Homo sapiens: one gene and its partners. The protein of the gene in region 1 purifies or fractionates together with the protein of each later gene. This does not show direct contact. Each region holds a gene or a part of one and is shown on either strand. Other genes may lie near its edges.

Region 1 (7,514 bases):
GCCCTCAAGAAGGTTATAGTCTTACTGGAGAAACCCCAGTCACAATGTTCAATTCCTTTTCTGATTACTCACAGTGACTACCACAGCAAGCCACATTCTGTTCATTGTGATCCTACAGCTCTTCTAACTTTTTGTAGGCTCAAGACTAGTGCTTATTTAGTGTGGTCAAGGTTCCTCACAATCCAAGTGGATAAGTGAGATTTCAGCTGGAAAATATACACATCTTTTTGCTATTGGCTCTCACATAAGGCTCAAGAGTACTCGAACTTCTGTATGCATCACCATTACACAGGGAGCTGGTTTTAAATGCAGATACCTGGCCCCATCCCAGAGATAGGAATTCAGTAGACCTTGGGTAGAGTCCAAACATTTGAGTGTTTAACAAATAGCCAGATGATTCTAATGCAGGTGGCACTTGGACCATGCTTTGAAAAAGACTGCTCAGTATTTATGAGGCTTTTTTTCTCTCCCTTTAGACAACAGCCTTTATCTAAAGAATGCATTTCTCCCTAAAAAAAAGATGCTTGAACATGTATATATTCACTCATGCTTATTTTTGGTCTATGCCTTGGAGTGTTGATTTGCCATCTTTAACTCCCTAGCTCATCCATAACAGGACACCTAGGACTAGGCACTGGTTTGTTGCGTTTCCCCAGCAGTGGGCCCACTATTCGTCATCCCACATCTTTCGCCTCTCAGAGGTGTGCAGATGAATTTCAACTTGCTAATGTAGCGTCTAAATATCCTCTTGTTCACAGTTCTGGGTTATCAAGGTCTATGCTTGGTGGACACAGAAAAAGAGGCTTAATCTACTTCGCCCATTTAAGTGGGCTGGTAATATGTTGCTCCTTCAGTATAAGGCAGTTGTCAGTTGTCTACCTGTTATTGTGATAAAAGCTATTCAGGCAAGGTTGAGACTGTGGAGAGCACTCTATTTTAACTCTCCCCATTTATGAATAAGGAAGGCTAAAGGATCTGTGAATATTTCCCAAAGGAAAATATGCTTTTCAGTGAGTTCAAGAACAAGGGTGGCTTCTCCATTTACAAAACCAACCTGCCTGCAATCCCACTGCAGGCTCTCAGTGCTTAGCCAGGAGGGCAGCCCAGCGGTTTGGCATGGACACAGTCTATCCAGGTTGGGGGCAAGTGCAGAATTTCTAATACTGCCTATGGCTGCAGAAGCTCCAGTAAGCACTTATGCTAGATTCCATGTGGCTTTCCCTAGGAGAGAGTCCCATGGTCAGCAGCACTATCTCCCTTATCTCCATCCACTGGAGAAGCCGAGGGGAAGCCAGTAAGCCAAGGAAACAAATGGAGTCAATTATAACCCTTGAGCCATCCAAGTTCCTGGTTAAGCACATTACACAGCCCAACTCGATACTCTTAAGCCCTAGTAATGAAATGATATGCTGAGCCTGAGCAGAAAAAAAGGAGTTGATGGTTCCAGATTGAGTGCCTGACCATTTGCTCCACTTTTTGCTTGGCCCTAGGCATTCTCCAGCACTTCCATATTGAGAAGATCTCCAAGAGGATGTTTGAGGAGCTTCCTCACTTCAAGCTGGTGACCAGAACAACCCTGAGTAAGTAGTACTTCTCTTGACTGCTCCCTGAAAAACACATTCAGTTTTCAATTTAGCATAGCCACAGCTAAAGTCCCTCCGCAATCTCAGTGAACATTAGCACTGCTCAGTATCAACACTAAAGGATGTTCCATCTCTCTTCTGGGTGACTTAGCAGTGAATGGGGTGTCTGAATGTAATCTGAAGAGCTTGGACATGGTGAATACAAACCCAGATGTAGTCTGAGCATAGGATACCTCAGGTCAAGGCTTCCTGAATGTCTTTAATGAAACTGCTAAGCACAGAGTCTCAAGAGGGTTGGAGAAAGCTCATAAGATTCCAGGTCTGGTATATTTATGGAGACTTCACATCTGGAAGGGTGTATCCTCTGGTGGTGGGTATGAGAGGCAAAGAGAAATTAAAGGCATATCAATTCCTGTGTTATATGAAAGCACTTTTACTCCTGGGGAACTGCCCCTGGGTGGTCATGTTTCCTTAAAAGCATTCAGGCACTCAAAAACACTTGCAGCTCTCCCACTTTCCACACTAGATGGAGCCTAGGGACTAAGATACTTCTAGGCATTGGGGCGGGTGTTGAGCACTTCTAATGGGATAAAAGGCACACAGTTTCTATCCACAGGGAATTATAATGGATGAGACAGAACATGAAAATGACTTCAGTATGAATTAGTATAGTTCTGAGGAGTTAAATATCAAAGTGCTCAGGGGAATCTGCAAAGAACAATGAGATGAGAGCCAGGTGGGCTTAGTCGGGGAAGGCTTCGGGGAGGAGGTGTGTTTTGAAAGAGAAGGGTATGACTGGGCAATGGGTCAGGAAATCAGTCCAGGAAAAGAGTGCAGCCTAAGAGAAGACTCAGACAGGAGCAAACAGGAAATGTGGGTAGGGGAGAGGAATGATCACAAAGGCCACAGAAGGTGCACTAAAAGATTAGAAGATTTGGAGGTAGAAAGTAGTCATAGGGCCTGAAAAAAAGCCAGTAAAATGTTCAAATGTAAGGCAAGTAGCATCTGTAGTTGCTGCAAATAGCATAGAGATATCAACATGGTGCTTTGGAAAGATGTCTTTCGGCTATCAGATGCATATATTACATTAAGCACACACTTTGACGAAGCCAGATTATGAAGTGCCCAATTTATCATGCTAGGACATTGGACTTGATCTCCAGGCCAGAGAATGCCAGTGGAGGTTTTTAAGCAAGTGAATGGTGCATTCAGATCTGCTTTATTTATTTTTTTATTTTTTTAGAAAGAGGTCCTCGCTGTGTGGAGTGAAAGGTGGACCCTTATTAAGAGAAGTGGGATAGTCTGAATTAGGAACTAATTATACTATATTAAATCAATGAGACGGGAGGAGACGTCACTGTGAGAAACATTTCTGAGGTTAAATCAACAAGATCAGCATCAAAGAGAGAAACGAGTTTGGAATGGGTCCGATATTAATAACTCGACTGGGTGAATAGTAATACCATTCACCAACAGGGAAACTGTGAAGAATAAGCAGGTATTGGTGAAAAAGAGTTTCACTTGGAACATGTTTAAATTAATATGCTTAAGAGCCATCTGAGCAGAGTTAGGGTCCAATAGGCAGCTAGAAAAAGAGCCAAGGCAGTCAGTTGCTTGTCTTTGGCAGGACTCATAGAAAATAACAGGACAGTATGAGAATTCAAATGGAAAAGTTGGGAGTCCTTACATGTGAGTAAGAAAGGAGGCAGAGTGTAAGATCCTAGGATCAATTATGGGACTTCTGAAGTTACATGTTTTAGTTCATACTGTGAACAAGGCTTTGTTCTAGGTTCCAGGGGACTTAAAAGATGATTTAGATATACTCTGTGCCCATGGCAGGATTTGGGGTATATAATGGAGTAGAAGGTATGTGCCTCAAACTGTGTGTAGCTGAAAGAAGTTGGTATGATCCTACAGGGTCACCTAGGAGCAAAGAAGAACAAACCCAACTCTTTTATATAATGTGCCTAGCAGAGCCCAGCACATTATAGGGCTTCAGTAATAGCTGGTTCCTTGCCCAAATCCTCTTCTTGTTTTTTTGTTTTTCCTTCTATCTTCCCATTGAGTCATAGAGAATGGGGAAAAGGGAGAAATCCAAGGGAGAAAGGAGCAGAGAAATCAGGCCCATAGGGAAGGTGGGTCATTATTCTCTTGTGGCTAAGGAAAAGAAAAAGAGGTTCAAGACAGGTTTGGGCTTAAGAGGAGTTGGCTTAACTTGGACTAGGAGTTCTCCAGGTTGCAGTACCATGAGCACAGGAATAAAAAGAAGACAAAACACAGTATCCAGGGTGGGCAGAGACAACAGGGGATGGAAGGGCTACAGCCAAGTTTACTCTGCGTGGAAAGGGATTCCATGGGGTATATGAGAATGGATGAGGAACCATGGGAAGGGATTTAGGGTGCTAAGGGGGTATAAGGACAGCATGTGGACGTAGGAGAAAGCAACGTCGAGAAGTTTTTAACAAAAGATAGCAGGAATAGAGGAAAGAGTGATATATAATCAAATAGTAATCAAGTAACCCAAACCAATATTTGGGGACCCTAAGGGTAAGCAAAGCCCCAGTAATACAGTAGGTGCCGTTTTCCAAAGTGCCTTTTTGACCTGGTGCCAAGTAAGCTGCCTAAATAGCTAACAAGCAGATATTGAAGCATTTTGTAAATGCTAAATATACTGTAAAAATTCCAAGAATAACACTTAGGTTTTGCTCTTGAGGAGGGGCAGTTCTATATTATTCTTGGGATTCTTACAAATGCTATGTGTTGAAATGAAAACTTCATTTCCCATTTTCCATATCTGCTACTAGAAAAGTGTTTTGGGGCCATTTTTTGAAACCAAGTGATATTTGTATTCCAAATTCCCTGGTAGGTCCATGAGTAAGTGGGTAAGCATGGGGTATATTGGTTCTATTCCTAATTTGCTCTGCTTTCCTCTTACACACTCCCGGCCACTTTGCGTTTGTTTGCCTTTTAGGCCAGTGGAAGATCTTCACCGAAGGAGAAGCTCAGATCAGCCAGATGTGTTCAAGTCGTGTATGCAGAACAGAGCTTGAAGATTTAGTCAAGGTTTTGTACCTGGAGAGATCTGAAAAGGGCCACTGTTAGGCAAGACAGACAGTATTGGATAGGGTAAAGCAAGAAAACTCAAGCTGCAGCTGGACTGCAGGCTTATTTTGCTTAAGTCAACAGTGCCCTAAAACTCCAAACTCAAATGCAGTCAATTATTCACGCCATGCACAGCATAATTTGCTCCTTTGTGTGGAGTGGTGTGTCAGCCCTTGAACATCTCCTCCAAAGAGACTAGAAGAGTCTTAAATTATATGTGGGAGGAGGAGGGATAGAACATCACAACACTGCTCTAGTTTCTTGGAGAATCACATTTCTTTACAGGTTAAAGACAAACAAGACCCCAGGGTTTTTATCTAGAAAGTTATTCAAGTGAAAGAAAGAGAAGGGAATTGCTTAGTAGGAGTTCTGCAGTATAGAACAATTACTTGTATGAAATTATACCTTTGAATTTTAGAATGTCATGTGTTCTTTTAAAAAAATTAGCTCCCCATCCTCCCTCCTCACTCCCTCCCTCCCTCCTTCTCTCTCTCTCTCTCTCTCCCTCCCTCTCTCACAGACACACACACACACACACACACACACACACACACGCACGTCCACACTCACATTAAACGAAAGCTTTATTTGAAGCAAAGCTAGCCAAGATTCTACGTTACTTTTCCCTTGACTGGATCCCAAGTAGCTTGGAAGTTTTTGTGCCCAGGAGAGTAAATAACTGTGAACAAGAGGCTCTGCCCTTAGGTCTTTGTGGCTGTTTAAGTCACCAACAATAGAGTCAGGGTAAAGAATAAAAACACTTTCATAGCCTCATTCATTCACTTAGAAGTGGTAATAATTTTTCCCTAATGATACCACTTTTCTTTTCCCCCTGTACCTATGGGACTTCCAGAAAGAAGTTAAATTGAGTAAAATCATCAGAAACTGAATCCATGTAAGAAAAAATAATTGTTGAAGAAAGAAGTTGATAGAATTCAAAAAGGCCATCTTTTTGCTTTCACATCAATAAAATTTACCAAGTAATAGATCAGTACTCACTAATATTTTTGAGACCATAGTTGTCTGGTCAGAAAAATTATATTAAATTAGTAAATTCTAGAAGCTCTTTAAAAGGGAAGTTTTCCTTCTTCTCCAATTATAGGAGTTGATTTTTACTTTGCAAAGTGGCTCGGTCCTCATGAGCATCTGCATGTTGACTCTTCAGTTAAGAAAATTGTTGTTCATTTAGGGAGGTGGATATTCTGATGAAGATCTTTATCCTAAACCTTCCTACTATCCTTGTCTTATTCATCAAGCAGATATTTTAGTCAAGAATTCCAGAGAAGGCTGCTCCTAAAATGTCTACTTGCAGCCCAATACCAGAGCATAAACTATCCATTCTGGGGTCTGGCTTTAGAAATCATCTTTGTGGGAAGACCTAATTCTTCACAGCAAGGATCTCAGGCATGCCTTCTAGATTTGTTCCCTCTGAGGGGCAGGAATGAACTGTAGAAATGTTTTAAGGACCCAGAAACCCCATATGTCTCATTCCATGACTATAGGTGAGAGAATTCTTTCCTAAGAGGGTTTGATACCAATAGGGGAAAATGTAAAATGTTCAGTCTTTATGACAACCTGGCATAAAGGAGTCAATTCTTATGAAAGAGACACAAGGGCCTTATGGCCAGGGTTTCTTGGGACAAGACTCTCACCAGCACATCACACACGTTCTCCTTGGAAGAGAGAAGCAGTACATCCCGGTTGAGAGGTCACAAAGCATTAGTTTGTGTGTGTGTGTGTGTGTGTGTGTGTGTGTGTGTGTGTGTGTGTGTGGTAAAGGGGGGAAGGTGTTATGCGGCTGCTCCCTCCGTCCCAGAGGTGGCAGTGATTCCATAATGTGGAGACTAGTAACTAGATCCTAAGGCAAAGAGGTGTTTCTCCTTCTGGATGATTCATCCCAAAGCCTTCCCACCCAGGTGTTCTCTGAAAGCTTAGCCTTAAGAGAACACGCAGAGAGTTTCCCTAGATATACTCCTGCCTCCAGGTGCTGGGACACACCTTTGCAAAATGCTGTGGGAAGCAGGAGCTGGGGAGCTGTGTTAAGTCAAAGTAGAAACCCTCCAGTGTTTGGTGTTGTGTAGAGAATAGGACATAGGGTAAAGAGGCCAAGCTGCCTGTAGTTAGTAGAGAAGAATGGATGTGGTTCTTCTTGTGTATTTATTTGTATCATAAACACTTGGAACAACAAAGACCATAAGCATCATTTAGCAGTTGTAGCCATTTTCTAGTTAACTCATGTAAACAAGTAAGAGTAACATAACAGTATTACCCTTTCACTGTTCTCACAGGACATGTACCTAATTATGGTACTTATTTATGTAGTCACTGTATTTCTGGATTTTTAAATTAATAAAAAAGTTAATTTTGAAAAATCATCTGTAGTCTTGTTGCATAAGTAATTGACTCTCTGGTCAGTGCTGACCTTGGACAGGGTAACAAGTCATGGATGGGTGCGGTGGTTTCACAATAACCTTGACATTCTTATACTATAGCATGGTGGTTAAGAGTGTGAACTTTGCAGTCAGACTATTTAGATTTTTAAGCCCAGCTCTGTACTTACCAGCCGTATTTGTCAGTCTTTCCAACTATAAAATGGAATAACAGTGATATTATTTCCCTTTGCCTGCAATCTTGCAGTGAGTTTTAATTTAGTCATTGCATATAAAGTGATTAGAATAGTGTCTGGCGCATAGTAAGTATTCATTTATGACCATGGACATTCATGGATGTCGTGGCACTGAAAATGGCTATTGTTTTCTGACCTCCCTTTAGGTCAAGATACTTAAGAGATTGGGTACAGAAGGCCATTGGGTACAGAAGGTTTCAATG
Region 2 (7,616 bases), on another chromosome or scaffold:
TTTATCTCAACCAAATCTTTGTATCCTAATTGAGACAGTATGCTGAAAAACAGAACCCACTTTTGAAGAAAAGCGGTTAAAAATGTGCCTTGATCTGTTGCAGTTTGAGAAATAACTTGCATCTAAAGTTTTTTATTTTTCTTAGAGGCTTTGTCCAGAGTAACTCTGTTTCAAGTTAAAGAACTGATGATGTTTCCTTAATAATCCTTTCTCTCTCTCTCTCTACCTCCTCCGCCCCCTGTCTCTCTCAGTCTCTTCCCTTTCTTTTTCATCTTGTGTCTGCTGCTGCCTGGCAACTTTTCTGTCTGGAAAAAGGCAGGGTAAGAAACTTAGCAGGCCTTGCAATGATAGCTGCAGAAATCCTTAGCAACCTAACTTTCAGGCCAACTCTCCTTCACACACATCTCTTCCATGAGACAGACTGTCAGCTCCAGCTTGTTTAGACACACGTCCTCTCCCTAACTTAACGATGTTCAGATGTGTAGCACAAATTGTTACTATCTACAGTAAGAAATCCAATCTCACAAAAATAATTAAGTTAGCAGAAATGAAATGTGATGTTTGATCACATGTATGGAAACTGTGGCTCTAATTGGGAAGTGTAAGATTACCACTGACTGATAATTAGCATTCATGTGTTGTTTTAAAACAAAAAGGAAGAATGATTGGTTCTACTTTGTTTAATTTATCTTAATGAGAGATTTCATAATATTCTATAGTTTGATGAATTAATTTAACTTGTCAGTGTTAATAACTCTGATTAGAATGAATAAATTATAATGGAGCCTAGTAACAAACAAAATTCGAACGCTCACTCAAGCTTTTCCCTCTTCACTAATAGTGCACTTTATTAATTTATTTTTTCATTAAAGCATATATTATGGGGAAACAAAAGTATTTCATAGAAAATTATACTTAAGCTTTTCATTTATTTATGATCCATTAACATTCAATGGTCATTTAAAACCTAGGAGCAAATTATTTAATTTTAAAGCTCAAATTTGGTCTACACTTTTATCAACCTCACTGATGCTCATAGAAACCAATCTTCTTTTATAAACTGGTCATTTTCAAAGAATATCTGGAAGAAGAACCACTTTATATAAGAGATTTGATGTGGGACAGACAATTTTATCCCATTTCATTTTGACACCGGCTTTATTTCAGTTTTGGAGCAAATATATATTTTCTGCTTAATATTTAATCTGTTTATTTCATATTTTGGCTTCTTGGTATGAATCAGTGTCCTTAGTATAAATTTTAGTCTTAAAAACTCTTAACAAGCATTTAAGTTCATGTGTTGTTGTCCACTTAAGTACTGGTGCATACCTAAGCACCTATACTTTCACCAAATTTTTGAGAGAGGTTTTATACCATTTAGATCTTTATTAATCATGGTCTTAAAATAAAGCTTCAATTTTTTTTTTTTTTTTTTTTTTTGAGATGGAGTCTCACTTTGTCCCCTAAGCTGGAGTGCAGTGGCGCGATCTCGGCTCACTGCAACCTCCGCCTCCCAGGTTCAAGCGATTCTCCTGCCTCAGCCTCCTGAGTAGCTGGGACTACCAGTGCATGCCACTACACCCGGCTAATATTTGTATTTTTAGTAGAGACGGGGCTTCGCCATGTTGGCCAGGATTGGTCTCAATCTCCTGACCTCGTGATCCTCCCACCTCATCTTCCCAAAGTGCTAGGATTACAGGTGTGAGCCACTGTGTCCAGCCTAAAGCTGCAAATTTTATTTTATAGATAATACTTCATTAAGATTAATTCACAGTGGAAATTAGGCTTATCATGTTACCTTTTATTGGTGCTCCAGCCTATACTTTAGTAACTAATCTTCCATATTTACTATCACTATTTTATAGTAACTGTTTTGAGTCCTATGTCATTCATGATTACTGACTTAATTGGTGATTACTTAAGAATTCTATTTTGCTTTATTATTCTGGTCACAATGTGCAGACAATGCATTTTTGATTTTTTTCCACTCAATGAAATAAAAAAGTCAACCAGATGATCTAAAAAGATCATATGGTTTTTACTCTGGCTAATTCATTTAACAGGCTATTAGGAGGCTCTACGTATTTGGAATGTTGTATATTTAGAATACAAAATCTCCTGAGTATTTGCTACTCTTATGATCTTTCCTAGCTTTTCCCTTTTCCAAGCTGACCATGGAATCTAGGGCTGCTGCACGTACTACAGAAGTGAATGAGTTAGTGATTTTTAATCATAGCATTGGGGCACTTTAGTATGTGGTAAAAGTCTTTGGTGGGTCATACTGTTCCTGGCTGCTTTCCTTTACTTTGCAGTGAAGTGGAGGGCGATTGGTGGTAATCTTTCAGAAGAGGAAGAATCTGGATGTCCTTAGTATGGTTTGTAAGCACTCCTCATTTTCTTGCCAAGAGTTAAGTGGATACAGATCTCCTAATAGCTGACCTTCTAGTTGACTGAATGGGATCATGTAAGAAAGACACCTGCTACGTTGTCCCAGTGAATAAGTTTGTCATACAATACAGAGGTCTGTGGACCCTCGAGAAAGAAACATTTATTACTTGGCACATCATTCAAATCTCTCTCTGTCTCTCTCTCTCTCTCTCTCACACACACACACACACGCGCGCACACACACATATTCTTTAAACTCTGCCACTCATTTCAAAGTTTGTGAATTTTCAGTATGAAGTAAAATATGTAAAAAAATCTTTTTATTCTATATTGTACACTATATTATGAAATAATAAAAACATCTAGGAAAAATTAGACATGTAACAACTTTAGAAGAAAAGAAGCATACACTTCTCTACTAAAAGTACAAAAAAATTAGCCGGGCATGGTCGTGGGCGCCTGTAGTCCTAGCTACTCCGGAGGCTGAGGCAGGAGAATGGCGTGAACCCGGGAGGTGGAGCTTGCAGTGGGCCGAGATCGCGCCACTGCAATCCAGCCTGGGCAACAGAGAGAGACTCCGTCTCAAAAAAAAAAAAAAAAATTAAGCATACACTTTTGAATGTAGGAGTCATATTTCAAACACAAAATGGTTGTATTTTCAAGGGAAAGTAAACTTTATAATTTAAAACATGGAAAAAGTGACATAAAATACATTTATAATCACAGAGTAAGAATAAAAAGGTGAAATCCACAGATTATTGACAATGTTCTGCAAAGTCATCTCTGTGTTCTTTCATCTAGTCCAGTTTTTAATGGCTTCAAAGGAGCATCTAAAGATATTTCTGGATAATTTTACTCTCATAAATAGGTAGATAGTAATGCTGGCATTCACTTATAAGTCTCAAACAGCAAAGTAAATAAAGCTTTTAAAGCATCTTCCTTCACTTTTCAATCGTTCTCTTCCTTAGTTCTGTTCCCTTCTCATAGTTTTCCTCTCCACTCATGTCCAGTTTCAAAATATTAAATATAAAACCTTTTCAACTCTTGTTCTTAGAAGAGAATTCCTGATGTTACAAGGAAGAAAGTAAGTCTACAACTATTAAGATTTCTGAGTTTTAATTCCGTAGCCACTTTGTAATGGCAAACTAAAATTTTAGGGACTGGGATGATCATGTTGTAAACTTAAGTGGTCATAAAAACAACTTTACTAATATTATTATTCCAGTGATTCCCGTTGATGCCTCCGATGGCTCGGGAAAGTTCTTACACCGCCCCTGTAGTATATGGAAAAGGAAAACAAAACAAAACACAAAACAAAAACAACAAAACCCTCAAAGCCTGTTTAAAATGGCTCGAAGTACCCTTTTAAAGACAGAACCCCAGAGAAAAACGCTGCCAATTCGTTGCTTTATTGTTCCCTGCCTGGGGACCTCAATAGCCTTTTCCATTAACCTTCCCTTCTTACGCAACGGTTAATGACTTTGGGGGTTGTTTTGCTTTCTGTTTCTGCTGAGTCACTAAATTTTGCCTCTTTGTCCCCAGGTGCTGCTCAGCATAAAAGTTAAAAGTGCAATTCAGGAAGTACTGGGATTCTGTGTAGAGCCGAGGAAACCATTTCCCTAAGAGAAGCTCTGTTCCTTGGCTTGTCCTTCCTTCCCGGGAAGGAAGCTTCCGAGGAACGAAGGGAGAAGCTTTGTTTTGCCTGCAGAAGCAGCCCTGTGCTCGGCTGAGGGTTCTCAGCTGGCTGTGAACTGCGGAGCATTGTAGGCGCCTGGCTGGCTCAGGCCAATGCAGAAGTCTCTCCCTTCTCCAAAGACCCAAATCCCCACAGAACCAGCTTCGAGTTACTTTCCCTTCAAGGGGATTAAAATAATTGTGATTTGTGGCGCTCTCCGTTCGCGGTGGTATTTTCCTGTTGTGTTAAATGCCTCTTATTAAGTAATAGATGTGATTTATGTGAACGACGAAGGGGTGTGTGGTGGATTCGGTGATTAATCAGTGAATTCCCATCCGCTGGCATCTCTCACTGCCCCTCTTGCGTGATGTAAGATCAGACGTACCCTGCATTGAAAAGTCAAGACACACGGGCGTCTCGCTCGCGCTCACACACGCTCTGCCTCCTCTCTCCCGCACGCGCGCATCCCTCCACCTTCCACATCCTGCTCCAGGCAGGAGAAGGCTGACTGGCTGGACTCATTGAGCTGAAGAATTTCCAGTGACATTTGTAAATGACGCCGCTCGATTCCAGGCTCCAAGCGGCCCCTGCCGCCGCCGCCGCCGCCGGGCCGAAGGTGCCGCCGAGCAGTCTCCAGCGCAGGCTTCCTTACCGGGCGACCACAATGTCCGAGTTTCTCCTCGCCTTACTCACTCTCTCGGGATTATTGCCGATTGCCAGGGTGCTGACCGTGGGAGCCGACCGAGGTAAGGAGAACACCTCCCCGCTCCCCTCCCCTGACTTCCTTGGCTTTCCTGCTGGGCGATGCTTGCAGATAAGTGAGTGTGAAACTTAAGTCCTTGCAGCTCCGCTCCCCGGGACCGGGTGACCACCGTGCGCTGGCCCTGTGCGGGGGTGAGAGGTGCGGTGCGGGATTTCTGAACCAAGTGCCTGAGTCCTCGGCACCCCCACAGCTTTTCCCTTTGGCCGTTTCCCGGTCCCCATTTTGTCCCCTCCGGGAGTGTGTGCACTTGGCTGTGCGCTTCTGTCCGCGAATTCTAAGCGCTGCAGATGTTGGAATGAGAATTCGCATTTCCGAAAGACTTCCCTCCGCGATGGCCCTCAACTGCGAGCTTTTGCGAGCTCCAGGTTCTCCGCGTTAAGCGTGTCCGCCCTCAACTTAGCTCCCAGGTTAACTTCCTTACCTGCTGCATTCGAGGTCCGTGGAGCGGCGAAAGCGCCGATTCAGGCCCCTTTCGTTTCTATAGCCCCTTCCTGGGGGCAGACTGGGGTCAGAGTCCTGTCATCAGCAGAGAGGCTTTTAGGACGATTCCGGGCGCACGCACCTGCTTGAAATTGACTTTTCGATTATGAGGGTCTGTGACACAGCCCAGGTGCTCTGAGGGGCTAACCCACCCCTGGAGTGCCTCTCTCCAGTCTGGCGCTTTGCTTTTCCTTTTTCTCCAAGCAGCTGGTGAATGGTAGAAGTTTAGAAGGGAATGGATATGGGGAGCAGAGGAGAAAGGAGGTAGGAATTAGAAAAAGCCGGGATTCTATAAACTTTTCATCTGGAAAATCAAGAATCCCTGTGCGAGTTTAATAATCTTTGACAACAGATGCACTGGTGAAAAAGGGAGGAAAATACTAGATGAATATTTGGGGCACTGGCCCTGGCCTTGGAATGGTTAACTGGTTAAAGTAAAATCAGAAGTATCATAGATTTTTTTAAAATCAGAAAATGAGCTTATATTGACTGGTATAGTTCAGCTTTTTAGTTTAAATAAGAGAGAGAGAGAGAGAGAGAGAGAGAGAGAGAGAGAGAGAGAGAGAAAGAGAGAAAGAAACCCAGATCCCAATGCCAAGCAAATAGGCAGAATGTTGCATTGGGAGATTTAGTTATTGTATTTACATGAAGCAGATTATGAATTGACAAAAAATATTGCTTCATTATAGGAAAGAACAGGGGAATGAACTGCAGTGTTTCTATTCAACCTGCTGTTGGCAGCCAGATTCTAGCCTTTGTAACATACCTACACGTGTTATTTCCTCTACCAGTGGTGGGACTAATCTGAGTTCCTTTAGGAAATCTGACACTTATTGGTGATAATCTTTTAAGCATATCATTGCCACCTAACCATAGCTTCTGAACTTGCTCAACTTGCCTTGAAGTTGGTGTGGAATGGTTGGAAACTATACTGATGAAATGGAAGCACATAGCTCGCCTTGAAATGATGATGTCTTTGATCTGGAACAATCAGCTCTCAACCTTTCTTAGGAAAAATGTTTGAAGTTGGACCAGAGCAGATGAACAGAATGGAGATTTTCAGCCCAGTATGCTAGCAAAATATAATGGTACTGGCAGACTACTGCTATTGGGCTCTTCCTGATTGAGTCTCCAATCTCCAGAAATTTGACTTCATCTAAAGCTGAGTTCTCAATGCTTTTGTATACATTTATGAGGATAGAACTACTGCTACCATGATTGGAGTAAATATCTGAAGAGAATTTTGTATAGAACATAAAAAATACAGACCCCACAACTTTCTTCTGAGATAGAATATTAAATAACTAAGAGGATTATATTTGGTGCCAATTTAGTTTCATGAGGGAGAGGAACATCTAAGATAGAAGCAGAGCACATGGTAAACGATTGCTAGTTTTTTTCTAAAAAATGAAATAGTGTCGTGTTGTATCACCACGTCCACATGAAGTACTATATCAGATAGCACAAGTAAAAATAATTGTAGACCAGCACTTTGCCACTATTATATATTTAACACACTTTCAAAACTGTTAGCAAAGAGCTAAAATTCTCACAGTTACCAAAAGTGAAAAGGATGGGCCCCATTTGGAAAAAGGAATTTTAAAGAGAGAAATCTTGTTGAAAGTTAAGAAAGAAAGTGTTACTGCATTATGACAAGCTTCCCTCACTAATATGCTGAAACAGAAGATATGGGAATATAAACTCAAGAAAGAGGTTAATGAGATGTAACTTTCTGCACAGGCTTATGTCAATCGTCCTTGAATAACAGAACAGGCATGTGAATTATACAGATGCGTTTTGTAGTGCAAGAGCTAACTGCTTGACAAAAAATGAGAATTCACATTTAGGTTCTACGTGTACTTATTGTGTAATAGGTAGCTTCTCAAACTGTATGAACTATATCAGAAGTGTTTGTATTACCTTCTAGCTGTGTTTTTCCTTTATACATTCATAAGTTCAAACATTGTATTAAATAGAACAAGGCTTGAAACTAACTCGTATGTTTATGTTCAAACCATATACGTGCACTTGTCTTTTAATTCCTTATTGTTTATTTTATTAGTTTATATTGATTCTATATAGAGCTAAACTAATGTACATGTAAGTTTTTATTACATTCTATCACATCTTAAAAAGGAAACATCTTTGTAACTCTTAACAGCCAAAATTGGAAGATAAATCAGATTCACTTAGAATCAACTAATTTGTCATATAACAATGTCATATCATATCAAAGTATTGCTTGATAAGGATTAAAACTTAAAAGGAAGTATATCTTAAAGTGTCAAATTTTCTGAAAAGGGATTGAGA
Region 3 (7,514 bases), on another chromosome or scaffold:
TTAAATGCATTCTAGGACCTTAGAAGTTAACAAAAACATTCATAGCAGGATGTCTTTTACACTTGATCTTAGCCAAAAGACCAAGAAGCGATGCAAGATGCCTTTTAATGGAGAGAGTCTTCTTACTAATCCTATGTGTATATCCTGATTTTCTTCAATATGTACTTTTTAAATTTTAAGTTCCAGGGTACATGCTCACGATGTGCAGGTTTGTTACATAGGTAAACGGGTGCCATGGTGGTTTCCTGCACCTATTAACCCATCACCTAGGTCTTCAATATTTTTTAAAAACTCATTTCCAGTGTGTGTTTAATAGTAATTTAACAAGAAAAATAAGATCTCAGATGCTTTATCAAGCTCAGCTTCTTCTATGGAACAGAAAAACTTAGCAATATTGGGGTTGAATCCTTGTGAAGAGCTATACATACCAAACTCTATCCTAACCCCATATGCTTATTACAAATTATAATTCCAAATTTTATCACCAAATCAAACTCAGAGTAATAGAAAAGAAATATTTAACACAAACTAATAATTAAAACACAAATTTCACCTATTGTTCAGGATATCTTTTTGAGAAAGGTTTTTGTTAAAGAAAATTTCAGATACAAACATAAAGAAAATTAAACAATCAATCCCCATATTCCCAGCTCTCAATAATGAGCCACTCATAGCAATCTTTCAACTTACTTTTAATCCATATTTTGAATCCACAATAGTTATGATACCTACAAAGGAAAAAACATTTTAATCACTTTTTAAAAAGAATGCTTATTAATACTTGTGCAACCATACTTCAGAATGAAAATTAAAACTAACCTATTTCAGTTCACAAATACTACTCAATAAAACAATGTACTGTTTTTTTCTCTTGCCAGTGCTGCCATTTAATTAAATTCCAGTAATAAGTCAATGCATTTCCTGAGTGGCTAGCACTATTTTAAGGCACTAGAGAAGATATAAAACAAATAAAAATTTTAAATTAAATAAATAAGAAAATAAGATTTCCTTGGCACTGAAAAAGCTTACAATCCAAAATATAAGTCAAATTTCATAACATAGTCAAATGTGATAAGTACATAAGACAGGTTATTTCTAGTTTATTTTCACATAATCAAAATCAAGACTTTTCTTAAGATTTAAATTATTGCCTAAAGAATGAGACATCTTAAGGTATCATTCCTAACATCTCTCACCAAATCCAAATCCAAATCCAGCTCATAAATGTTTTACATAACATATGCCTAAGTTTCCAAACTACCAATTCATTTTGCAATCTCTGAATATATGCTGATAACAAAAGAATGAGTTTAATTATGCTAAGGAATTCAACCAGTTACCCGCCACATATATTAGAGCTCAATGATGGGGCCCAGCTTAATAATTCTTAAATTTCTTAATGATTATTACTTTTGAAAAAGTAAGAAAATTTCGACTGGTTTTTAAAAAGGTGAAAAAGGGAAAGAGAAAGGGAGAAAACATAGTCGCTTAACTAAGAAAGTTTCTAATATATTTTAAATGAAGGCATATCATTGCCCAAAAGTGTTCAGGTAAATAAAGTAAGGGAGGAGTGTTTAATTCTTATCTTCAAGAGAAAATAAAAGCAAAAATATGATCCTCATATTGCCTGGAGGATTAAAATAAAAGGCTCTAACATTATATTAAGGGCATAAATCAAACAACAGAGGATACAGAAAACCTACAAAGCATTTTTTTTTTTAAAGAAAACCTTAGTGGAAGCACTAAATTGGAAGTTGAGTGACATCGATTTCCACCACTGTTTGGGGTTTTTTAATCTATATGAACAAAGATTTCATCATTAAACTAAAGTGTGAAAAGAACAACAATGCAAGGAATTAAAGTTATAATATGAATGAACAACAATAAGCTTAACCATAAAGATTTTACTAAAAAACAAAAGAGGCAGGGTGTGGTGGCTCACGCCTGTAATCCCAGCACTTTGGGAGGCCGAGGCTGGCGGATCACCTGAAGTCAGGGGTTCAAGACCAGTCAGGCCAACATGGCGAAACCCCGTCTCTACTAAAAATCCAAAAATTAGCCAGGTACGATGGTGCACGCCTGTAGTCCCAGCTACTCGGGAGGCTGAGGCAGGAGAATCACTTGAACCCAGGAGGTAAAGATTGCAGTGAGCCGAGATCATGCCACTGCACTCCATGCACTCCAGTCTGGGCAACAAAGTGAGACTCTGTCTCAGAAAAAAAAAAAAAAAACAAAAAAAAAAACCAAGAAAGATAAAAGAAAACTGTTTTTTAACTTACCATCAAGGTAAATATCACTCCCTAATTCAGCATCAACCCAAAACATAGAAGCCACTGCACCTGAAAATATATAATATTCATCAAATAAAAATATTTCTTCACACTGAGAAACATGATTCTATCCATGTTTTAATTTGCCCTGATAAAATTAACAGGTAAACACATATATCTTCTTATGGAAATTATAGTGATAGAAGCTTTAACTATTTATAGCAAAAGGGAATTATAGTGATAGAACCTTTTACTATTTATACCCATTCCATTTCCATCTCTCGTTATTTCCTTTAAAAAAGACCAATTCTAACCACATATAAACAAAACATCATTCTTCTACCGATGCCATAATAATTTAATTAACAGATATTATCAAACAATTTGAGCAGTATGGCTTTGTGCACATCAGACTTATTTTTATTTTCTCACCTCTTTAATATGATAATCATTCAATCATAAATAGTGAATTATCACTCTAAAGGAAAAGGAAAACAAAACATAGATAATTCCAAAATCACTTGCCCAAAAAAAATTTACTTGTAATCTGTGTAGAACTAGAAGTAAAATTATATACTCTATGGCATTACTAATTATTCCTCACACTATTTATTTAGGACTGTATAAAACCTGGGTCTTAGGAAAAATTTTTCCTAAATAATAAATTAAAACTTGCTTTTGACAGAAATTGGTTCAGTACCAAACCACATACCCTGATTAGTATGCCACAACGCAAGAAAAAGAAAACTGACAGCAAGGAAAGTATTTGATTTTTGAAAGCATCACAGGCCCAGTTAGTGACAGGGCTGTCTAAAAGAATGAGTGTAGGAGAAAAACAAGGATAATCAAACTCATTCCAACGTCTAAAGCTGTCCACCTGCTCTGACAAGATGTGGTCCCCCAAGCATCACTCTGTGTCAACAATGAAATACCGGTCAGCTGTTTACAGTGATTACTCATGCAAGATATAGCAAGGGCCACAAGATCTAATGGTTTCCTGATACCTATTGATTTTTTTCCCAAAAACGTAATAGTTTTCCAATTTGACTCAAATAGGATTTGTGAGTAACAGGGGCTGAATCAATGTCCGTTCTTTTCAAGGAAATTACTTTACCATGACAATTATTTAACTTAGAACTGGAGAGTGTCAGTCTCCAAAATGGGAAACAACTGAATTGCCAATAAGAATTCTGTTCACTTTCTTGGCTAAAACATGATTTTAATTAATGAGGGGGAAAATTAAATCTACTGTATCACTACTCCAAACAATAAGTCATTTAAAAAAGCATGAATTTTTTCACTCAGTAAAATATCTAACATACATAAATCATTTTGTAATTTTTAAAAATTCATTGATTTTTAGTCTAATAAATAGTTTACAAATCCTACTGTTAATATTTGCCTCTTAAGTTGAAATGTAAGAGTATATTAATGCTTTATTCTAAAACTGGTATTTATCTTTGATATAATACTTGCCAGACTACATGAGAAAGATCTATTTAAAATTTGGATGTAGGTATTTAGGAGGAGTAAAGATGAATGAACAAAATTGATTAGTGGCTCTCAAACCAGGGTGCTTTTCTCCCCAGGGAATATTTGGCAATGTCTGAAGATGTTTTTGGTTGTCTTAACTAGGGGAATGCTACTGGCATCTAGTGGGTAGAAGCCAGGGATGTTGTTAAATATCCTACTCTGCACAGGGCAACCCCCTCACAACAAATAATTATCCAACCCAAAATGTTATTTGTGCTGACACTGAGAAAACCTGAACTACATTTTAGAATCTCCCTTCTTCAAAATCTAATAAAACAAAAAATAAAAATAAAAAATAAAACAAAAAGGCCAACATTTTATTAGCAGCAACCAAATATAAAAGGGCCTGCCATAAATTTTGAAGACTGATAGTCAAAATAAGAAACAAAGTTATATGTGATTGATGGTCATTCCCAACTCTACCCCTACCTCCAATAAGAGGTTGTAGGGAAATAGTTTACAAAATCCTAAACACTTACCAGAAATACACTCCAAAATGGCAAAAAGTAGAGCCGAGGAATGAATAAGCAACAGAGGGAAAAGTCAACAAAAAAATTTCAAGAGTGAGTTTTAACCATCTCCATGCTTTGGGAAGGAGAAGGTCAGGTCACATTCTAGGGCTCAGAACAAAGAGAAATGAGAGGTCTGAGGTCGAATGATGTCCCCATACAAGGCAAAGGAATTTTATTCATAAGCAGTTGGGCAGACCCAAGAGTGAAATACTTGGTACTTCAAGAGAGCAGAGCCTAAAAGCCACATTGCCCCATTTGGCTCTCTGAATCACCACTTTTCCCTTCTCTTTCCCTCCACTCCAACAATATACAGCTTTCAAACTAGGGCTCAGGAGAAAAACAAACTTGGGTAAGGAGAGTGGAGTATTAAAAATATTTCCCATCAGCACCACATAGAAGTTCTCCCATATCAAGAAGAAACTTGTATGCATATGTATTACAGCCTGACAAAAAGAAATACACACATACAGGGAATAAAAAGCAAGAAAGAACACAAAATGAAGAAATGAATAGGGCATACAAGTGGCAAAGAACCCATTCTGGAAGGATACATAACCCAATAAAAACTAAAGAAAATTCTCAACAACTTCATCATAATGAAGAACTTGAAAACAATACAACCTTATAATAAACAAGCTCAAAAGCAAGAAGCAGAATAAGATGAAAATGCAGTTTGTAGTGCTAAAGAAACTTAGAGCCTATATAACACAATGACTTAACCAATTAATTCATTTAAAATATCAAAAACAGGACAGATACTGGAGAAAACAGAATTATTGACAAAAAGAAAGGCTTCAGATGATCACAGTAAATGCAAAGGTAAAAGACAAATCAAAGCAATTAGAATACATACGAAGAACAAAAGAAAATTCAGTATTAAAAAAACTGGTGTCATGAAGTAGAGGATCTAATAATTTGACCAAAAAAAAGTATTCATGGTAACAAACAAGGAAAATGTTCTTAGAAGAACTAAGGGCATATTATAATTTAGGGAAAAATGATTATAAGTGACACTTAGATATACCTTGTTTATATTACTGAATTTCAAAAATAAAGAAGAAAACTCTCAGGCATTTTAGATTAAAAAAAAAAAAGTGCCTTCAAGGAGGGAGGGAGAAAAATCAGACTTTTCTACAGTAACACTAGATGTCCCAAAATAATAAAACAGTGACCACAAAGTTCTAATGAAAGTGTTCCCAAACAAGTTATTTTTCAGGAACGAAAGCAATAGACAGACATTCTCAAGCATTAAAGAAAACAGCAAGCATTGAAACTCAGAGACTATAATACTCACAAATTCTTCCTAATAAAAGGAGAAAACATTGGACAAAGAAATCCAGCCAATCAAACACTAGGAGATTATGGAACAACATTTACAAAGTTGAGGGGGAAAAAAGTGTGACTGATAAATTTTATACCGAGCCAAGTAATCCTTCAAGTAATATAAAAACAAAAGACAAATATTTTGAATCAATGAAGTGTATAAGAACCCAAAGAATGCATGCAGTACCTGTAACTTGAAAAGACTGCCTGACAATGAAATTCAATCAGGAGATGGACTAACTCGGGAATGGAGAAGCAACAGTACTGGTAATGAGCACCAAAACTATTAAAACATAGAACTAAAAGAATTATGACAGAACCATGACAACATAAAGAATATGATCAACATGAAACTAGGCCAATTAATATCCTACAATGGCCTCTAAGTGTTCAAGTGAAAGGAACAGTCACCTGTTTCTCACTTTAAATCAAGAGCTAGAAATGATTATGCTTAGTGAGAAAGTTATGTTGAAAGCCAAGATACGCCAAAAGCTAGGTCTCTTGAGCCAGTTAGCTAAGTTGTGAATGCAAAGGAAAAGTTCTTGAAGGAAATTAAAAGTGCTACTCCAGTAAACACACAAATGATAATAAAACAGCCTTATTGCTGATATGAAGTGGTCTGGATAGATGATCAAACAAGCCACAATGTTCCCTTAAGCCAAAGCCTAATTCAGAGCAACCCTAACTCTCTTCAGTTCTATGAAGGCTGAGAGAGGTGAGGAAGCTAGAGAAGAAAAGTTGGAAGGTAGCAGAGGTTGGTTCACAAGATTTAAAGAAAGAAGCCATCTCCATAACATAAAAGTGCAAGGGAAAGCAGCAAATGCTGATATAGAAGCTGTAGTAAACTACCTAGAAGATGTAGCTAACATCATTCATGAAAGTAGCTACACTAAGCAACAGACTTATTTTTTATTTATTTATTTATTTATTTTGAGATGGAGTCTCGCTCTGTCACCCAGGCTGGAGTGCAATGTGCAATCTCAGCTCACTGCCACCTCCGCCTCCCGGGTTCAAGCCATTCTCCTGCCTCAGCCTCCCAAGTAACTGGGATTACAGGCTCCCACCACCAAGCCAGGCTAATTTTTGGTATTTTTAGTCGAGATGGGGTTTCACTATGTTGGCCAGGCTGGTCTTAAACTCCTGAACTCGTGATCTGCCCATCTCGGCCTCCCAAAGTGCTGAGATTACAGGCATGAGCCACCGAGCCCGGCCAGCAACAGATTTTTAATGGAGATGAAATGGCCTCCTTTTGGAAGAAGATGCCATTTAGGACTTTCATAGCTATAGAGAAGTCAATGCCTGGCTTCAAAGATTCAAAGGACAGGCTGACTCTCTTGTTAGAGGCTAAAGCAGCTGGTGACTTCAAGTTGAAGCCAATAATCATTTACCATCCTGAAAATTCTAGGGCCATTAAGAATTATGCTAAATCTCCTCTGCCTGTTTTCTATAAATAATAAAGCCTAGATGACAGCACATCTGTTTACAGCATGGTTTATTTTAAGCCCACCATTGAGATCTACTGCTTAGAAAAAAAAAGATTCCTTCAAAATATTATTGCTCATTGACAACACACCTGATCACCCAAGAGCTGTGATGGAGATGTACAAGGAGATTAATGTTGTTTTCATGCCTGCTAACACAACATCCATTCTGCAGCCCACTGATCAAGGAGTAACTTTGACTTTTAAGTCTTATTTAAGAAATATATTTCATAAGGCTATAGCTACCATAGATAGTGATTCCTCTGATGGATCTAGGCAAAGTAAATTGAAAACCTTCTGGAAAGGATTCATCATTCTAGATGCCATTAAGAACATTCGTGATTCATGGGAGATCAAAGTATCAACATGAATAGGAGTTTGAAAGATGATTCCAG

Evidence for each region.
Region 2: the proteins of CHRDL1 (region 1) and LRP1B purify together in Homo sapiens (affinity purification with mass spectrometry; 2 studies listed by BioGRID and IntAct, with this or other methods). This does not show direct contact.
Region 3: the proteins of CHRDL1 (region 1) and ZNG1C purify together in Homo sapiens (affinity purification with mass spectrometry; 2 studies listed by BioGRID and IntAct, with this or other methods). This does not show direct contact.

The regions. Positions count from the first base shown.
Region 1 is NC_000023.11:110,673,402-110,680,915, reverse strand, and holds the end of CHRDL1 (chordin-like protein 1 isoform 1 precursor), read left to right. Parts: intron 1-1,490; coding exon 1,491-1,580; intron 1,581-4,554; coding exon 4,555-4,685; 3' UTR 4,686-7,060; downstream 7,061-7,514. UniProt on the Homo sapiens protein: Antagonizes the function of BMP4 by binding to it and preventing its interaction with receptors. Alters the fate commitment of neural stem cells from gliogenesis to neurogenesis.
Region 2 is NC_000002.12:142,127,841-142,135,456, reverse strand, and holds the start of LRP1B (low-density lipoprotein receptor-related protein 1B precursor), read left to right. Parts: upstream 1-4,440; 5' UTR 4,441-4,616; coding exon of another isoform or gene 4,617-4,727; coding exon 4,728-4,809; intron 4,810-7,616. UniProt on the Homo sapiens protein: Potential cell surface proteins that bind and internalize ligands in the process of receptor-mediated endocytosis.
Region 3 is NC_000009.12:68,251,746-68,259,259, reverse strand, and holds part of ZNG1C (zinc-regulated GTPase metalloprotein activator 1C), read right to left. Parts: intron 2,340-7,514; coding exon 2,280-2,339; intron 729-2,279; coding exon 691-728; intron 1-690.